Homo sapiens: one gene and its partner. The protein of the gene in region 1 interacts with the protein of each later gene in a pairwise test. Each region holds a gene or a part of one and is shown in the gene's direction. Other genes may lie near its edges.

What was found. Proteins that work in one complex are often made in the same cells at the same time.
Region 2: the proteins of DOK5 (region 1) and RAI2 interact in a two-hybrid assay, tested with the Homo sapiens proteins (one large-scale study listed by BioGRID and IntAct).

What each region holds. Positions count from the first base shown.
Region 1 is NC_000020.11:54,594,093-54,597,592, forward strand, and holds part of DOK5 (docking protein 5), read left to right. Parts: intron 1-3,500.
Region 2 is NC_000023.11:17,854,799-17,858,298, reverse strand, and holds part of RAI2 (retinoic acid-induced protein 2), read left to right. Parts: intron 1-3,500.

The sequences.
Region 1 (3,500 bases):
GACACAAATTTACCTATGTAACAAACCTGTACATCCTGCACAGGTACCCATGAACTTAAAACAAAAGTTTTTTAAAAAAGAAAATAAGAATACCTATTCATCATTGGGTATATTGTACAAAAAATAAAAGCAAATTAAATGAAAAAAAAATTAGCCAGGCATAGTGGCACACACCTGTGGTCTCAGCTACTCCAGAGACTGAGGTGGGAGGATCACTTGAGCCTGGGAGGTCGAGGCTACAGTGAGCTATGATCTTGCCAATACACTCCAGCCTGGGGCGACAGAGTGGACCTTGTCTCAAAAGAAAACAACAATGACAAAAGAAAATCCCTATAGAAAATGAATAATTTTTTTTGGTAAGGTTGGTATATTTTTCCCTTTGGGTCTCAGAAATTATTTATGCATTAACGATAACCAGTGAAATCTAAGTATTGAAAATGTTTTATAAATAGACTTTTCTATGACTGTACCTCTCATATCATCTCCATTCATATTTCATATTGATGTGTAAGAGAATTCTGCATTGATCAAGACTCTTTGGATCTGTTTTGGGCAGCACTTATTCAATTATTAATATTTTAAAATCTTTTTTTATTTACCATTTACAGGAAATAGTAGTAGAAAAAAAGTATAGCTTTTTATGGTAATGTTTGAGGATCAAAACCTTAGTAAACTTTATTAGTATCTCATATCTATTTTAAACTTGAAAACATGTTATCTTATTAATTTTCCAGGTATAAAATGAACACTGTACATATCCTGCAAACGTTTAATTTATTCATATTGAAATCTAACGGAACTGCTAAGGATTTAGGTGATTACTTAAAAGACCTCGATATTTCTCCTAAGTGCTGTAGGAAACCATAGATACTTGGAGGCTGGTATGTTTGAGTCTCTGTGTGTGTATGAGATGTGTGTATATGGGGTGTGTGTGTATGTGATGTAATTGTGTTAATAGTTTATAAAGGGCTGGGCGTGGTGGCTCATGCCTGTAATCCCAGCACTTTGGGAGGCCAAGGCGGGCAGATCACGAGGTCAGGAGATCGAGACCATCCTGGCTAACACGGTGAAACCCCATCTCTACTAAAAATACAAAAAATTAGCCGGGCGTGGTAGTGGGCACCTGTGGTCCCAGCTACTCGGGAGGCTGAGGCAGGAGAATGCGTGAACCCGGGAGGCGGAGCTTGCAGTGAGCTGAGATCCTGCCACTGCACTCCAGCCTGGGTGACACAGCGAGACTCCATTTAAAAAAAAAAAGTTTATAAAGGTCACTTTGATCACATTGTGCACGGTAGGATAGAGGAGATAGGTATGGATGTGGGAGATATTGAACCAGTTCAAGTGAAACAATGGTGGATGAAAAGATATATGGGTGACAAAGTTGAGAACTATTTCAATGGTCTTTACCAACATGCTGACTTGGAAGATATAAGTGTTTTATCCCATGACTTTGATGACCCCTTTATGGTCCATCCATTTGCTTATTTCATCCAAGAACTCCACTGGTTAGATGATTATAATATTCACAACCCAGGCCACTCAATGTTATATCTCCAATATCGTAGGGACATAGAATATTTATTGATTTTGAATAGCATTATTTCTTATGCATTGGTCATGTTTTGCAGGGCTGGTGCAAACTTGAGATTGAATGGTCAGAAAGGAAAGTGTGGGAGTTGTATGCTTAGCATCTTACTTCTCAAACAGCTTGGTGTAGTATACAAAGTACTGATTCAGAATTTAGAGAGACCCTGAGTAATCTCTATTTTTTGCTAGCTGCTAACCTTGGACAAAGTTCTTAACTTTCCTTGTAAGTTGATCAGAGTAATAACTTTCTTGCAGGTTTGTTGTAGGTAAAGGCAGAAATGCATGTAGATGACCTGGAAGGATGCTGGGCTTCTCCTAAATAGTATCTTTGGTATTCTATTATGATTACTTTTGGAGCAGAACATAAGCTTGCAGGATAGTGTTAAATGCAAGGTAAAATTACTATTTTATATTTTGCTTGAAACTCAAATAAAGATAAATTTTTATACTTACCATCAAGATGCTCAGGATAATAAGATCATTCGTGTTCCACACCAAGCGTGAAGGTTTCATGTCTGCCTTGCTTTATTAGTGAAGATAAGTTTTTTCCTTGGCTATTTTTGGATGTGTTGAAACAAAGCAGTTTTATATCAACCAGTATAATTTTCCCCTTCTCTCACATCGAGAAGTGAGCAGGAGTTGTCTGTCTAAGCAAGTAGTTTTCACATATCCAACATGCATCTGCAAAAACTTAACAATATCCTCTAGAACACAGGGAATCTTTCTTGGACAAAGTTCTGCTCATGTTCAGCCTCTCTCTTAGAACTAGAACTGAGTGTTATTCCTGCTCAGTGGCTCCGTTTCACCCCACCAAAGCTGACAGTGGGGCATGTGTAACAGACTGAACTGGAAGTTGGAGGAAATGAAGTAAAATTACAGTTCTATCACATACTGGCTGTGGGAACGTGGATATGTCACTTAACTCACCGAGCTTTTTTTCATTGCCACCTGTAAATTGGGAACACATATATTACTTATCTCAAAAGATTGCTATGAAGATTAAATAAAGGCACATGTAAAGACACCTGGAATAGTGCCTGAATGTAGTAGGCAGTTGTATCCACCCAAACTAGTACTGAAAAGAAACTCATTGACTTCCATAAACTCAAAGTCTGAGGAGTAAAGATGGCTTCAGGCTTGGCTTGGCTCAGTGTCCAAATGATAATCCCAGGTTTTATGTGACAGTTCTGTTTCTTCTAAAATAGCTTCATTCTAGCTCCATATGGTGACTTTCAGAAGCTTTGAGATCTCCCCACACTATCTCAGTAAAAGAGAGATATATTACTACTCTCTGCTGTCATTATATATACTATGTGTCAAGCACTGCACTTTACACAAAGCTCACAGGGTACAAATGCAATGAGGTTGGTTCACTGAAGGCAGGAAGAGGGTACTGTTGCTATCAGAAGAGGAGTGGAGGTGAGGCTTTTAAAAACTAACAAAATATGTACAATATAGCATTTAATAATTGCTCAAAACAAATAAGGTCAAGAGGCTATTTGACTGTAATTGACATTTGCACTCACAATAGTGCCGATTTCCAGAGCAGTGGTTCTTAGCTAGAGGTGATTTTGCTCCTAAGGGACATTTGATAATGTCTGGAGACATTTTTGATTGTCACAACCTGGGCAGGGGGTGTTACTGGCATCTAGTGCATAAAAGGGCCAGAGATGCTGCTACAGGCACAGAATAGTCCTTGACAACAAAGGATTATCAGGTCTAATCATGTGGTTGAGAAACCCTACTCTAGCAGGTGTATGAGCCATTGAAAATCATCACTACCATTTACTGAGCCCTTACTATATGAAAGCCTCTGTACTAAGAGGCTCATTACCTCATTTGAGCTACTCATTATCATACAAACTAGGGGATACAGTTATTTCCCTCTTAAAATGAAACCTGGGCAATGGCAA
Region 2 (3,500 bases), on another chromosome or scaffold:
TTACAGATAAGGAATCTGAGGCTCAGATAAATTTCCAGTTGTGTATCTGATTTCAGACTTTGGTGGTTATGATTTAAAGGGGCAACATGTCCCTATTCCCCTGCTCCAGGTCTCTTATTTATTTCTCTTAACCTGTCTGAACCTCAGTTTCCTTACCTACAAGATGGGAATAATCTTTCCCATCTCACATAGACGTTGTAAAGATTAAAGTGGGACACGTCAGCATGGAACCACGAAGGACTAAAACTGGAGTATGACACCAGGAACTCCAGGCCCCTAACCAAACATACAAATCTCTGGATCTCTTCCTGCTGGATCTTTCAGCCCCTCCACCTTGGCAAAATCTGGTACACAGTTGGTGGGGATTGGGGGGAAGGTGGAAGCCCACCAGTGGGCAACCCAGTCACCCACAGTGCATACTTATGTGCCAAGTAGATAGATCCGAAATACCCTGTGTCAGATGGACAGACTGTACCCTTTCATCTTGGAGTCCCCACCACCCAACTGTTGCTTAATAAATGAGAGTTGAGTGACTAAATGATGGCACTGATGGAGTGAATGGCAGTGGGGAGGGGGCTGTAGATCATTGTTAAGGGAGACCCAGCAAGGAGAGATCCAGAGATTTGTACGTTTGGTTGGGGGCCTGAAGTTCCTGGTGTCATATTCCAGTTTTAGCCCTTGGTAGCTCCATGCTGACAAGCCCCAGTTTAATCTTTACAAAATCCATGGGAGATGGGCAAGATTATTCCCATCTTGTAGGTGAGGAAACTAAGGCTCAGAAAGGTTAAGCAACTAACTCAAAGTCCACGAGGGACCAAAGGCTGGGTGAGGTATTTTTAACTAGAAACTGTCTCAAATAAACAAACACTCTATAGGAAAATGAGGAGGGAACTTGCTATGCAAATGTATCGTTAAAGCAAGCCCCGTAGCCCCCTTCCAACCAGGTGGTAGTCTTCAAACTCCTAGAAATTCTGGAGCCACCGAGGGAGCTGGGCTTTGAATCTATGTATGAGGAGCTCCTCAATGCTGCCTCCCTGAACAGAATATGAGGGAGACCTCAGAGAATGAGGGGGAAAGATGGCTAATTGCACTCTTCCCACACACAAAAGCCTGCGTGGGATTCTGAATTAAGCTTGATTTGGGGATCAGGGTGACATCCTTGCTGTAGAGTTGGCAGCTCTTGTCTTTGGAGAATGCCTCTGATTACCACTTCTCCCTCCCACCTGATCGTCTGCCCGGGTGCCCATCATCTCATTCTTTCCAGACTCAAAGCCTTTCCTTCATGGCTCACAATGTTGATGAGCCTCTTGAGTCTGCCACTTCACTGTCCTCTGATGGCAGCTGGTGAGAAGCTGATTTTGGCGGCCAGGTTAGTACTTCTGGAGTTCACACATGACCCTCCTCTCTCCTGCCAAGAACACACACACGAACACACATGCACACACAGACACAGGCACACATAATTTGATCACGTTTCTGTATCTGCTTCACCAAATTAGATTCAAACCCAGAATTGTTATTGGAAGAAGTATGTGACTTTGGTGTTCTCTCCCAGCCCCTGCCCTGAACAGACCAGAACAGCTAAGATGGAGGCAGCTTAGCCAGCAGATGTCTTGAGCCATGATCATACTTGCTGGCCTTCCCACTGCTGTGGGGCAGCACCGCAAAACATGGGCATGGTCTGCCTTCATCCGTCTGGGCTGCTATAACAAAATCCCATAGGCTGGGTGACTTATAAATGATAGAAACATATTTCTCACCGTTCTGGAGGATGGGAAGTCAAAGATCAAGATACCGGCAGATTCAGTGTCTGGTGAGGGCTTTTTTCCTGGTTCAGAGATGGCATCTTCTTGCTGTGCCCTCACATGGTAGAAGGGGCAAGTGACCTCTCTGGGGCTTCTTTTACAAGGGCACTCATCCCATTCATGAAGGCTCCACTCTCACGACCTAATCACCAACCAAATGCCCCACCTCTTAATACCATCACGTTGGGGATTAGGATTTCAACACAGGAGTTTGGAGGGGACAGACACATTCAGACTATGCATGGTCCCAGGGCCTTTCATAAAAGCCCATTTTAATCTCTACTGAGACATAGGGCTGGGCTCCTTGAACATCCCAATCCTTGTAATTCCAATTTCTGCTGTAATTAGCTCCAACAACTCAGTAATTCTAGAGAACTTTGGAGCACACTCTGCTCACACCTGTCACTCCTCTTCCCACAACTTTTTGGTCTTCCAGCACAGCACTGTCTAATAAAACTTTCTATGATGATGGAAATGTCACATGTTTGCACTGTCCCACACACTAGCCACTAGCCACATGCAGCCATAGAGTGCTTGAAAAGTGGTTGGTCCAAATTAGGATGTGCATTAAATATAACAGATGCATGGGATTTCTGTGACTTAATACAAAAAAAGAATCCAAAATAGCTCATTAATAAGCTTTGCATTGATTACATGGTAAAATGATAATATTTTGAATATATTAGTTAAATATGATAGAGTATTAAAATTAGTGGCTTCTTTTATTTTTTTAAATGTGACTACAAAAAAAATTTAAATTACATAAACATTTCTATTAGACAGAGCTGCTCTGGAGCAAACTAACCAACCTCGTGACTTCAGCCTCCAGATGTTCTGGGGACATAAACGCTCTCCATCTCGATGGCAGGTGGGAGGCAGGGGGCTGAGTCAGTAGCCACAGCAGCCTGGCATCAAGCGATTTTGATTTTCAGTAGCTCAGGTGCCATGATGGAGGTTCCCCGTGGAAACTAGCCATGAGCATGTTGGCTCAGTCTCATGCTCTATGAGGAATGTGGGACCCAGAAACCCAATAGAATGGGCACAGGCAGGACTGGCTTGAATGAAATGGCTCTTTCCTTTCCTCGACCCCACCCACCCCACAGGCCGGTGTCCTTGTCCATCGGAGAATTCCTTGACACCTGCTCTAGTAGCAGCTTAAAGTACTATCCATCCCAGGGATTTGTGCTTGGAGAGTAATGTCGCCAGTAGACACCCTCATGCTGACAGTGGGTTATTTAGGGCCAGGGCCAGCCTTAAAGGAGAGAAAATAAAAAAGAGAATGCACACTGTCATTTCCTGACAGCTTGATGAGAACAAGAGCAAGGACATAAATAAAATTTCTGCGAGGGAGACAGAATAAATGCAAGGAAGGTCAATTTCACACAACCATAGCACAGCAGATGAAGAAACCTGGCCAAAGGAGAGTTCAGGGAGGTAGAAGAAGGATTTTGGCTGGCACTATGGTATCATCACATCACATCATTTCTGGGTCCTTCCCTAGGCACTGGTCATGGCATAAATAGACGGAAAGGGATGGGATAATGAACTTGGGACTGCAGTGATTTACAGGTCAGGCGCCTGTGGCTCTGGCTCCTGAGGGGGCTGCCCTCACAGGGGACCCTTGGCTGACCCCCTTGGGCTCCTCAGAAGGAGTTGGTTTTGTTTCACATGGCAGAAGCAGACTGTTTACTGGAG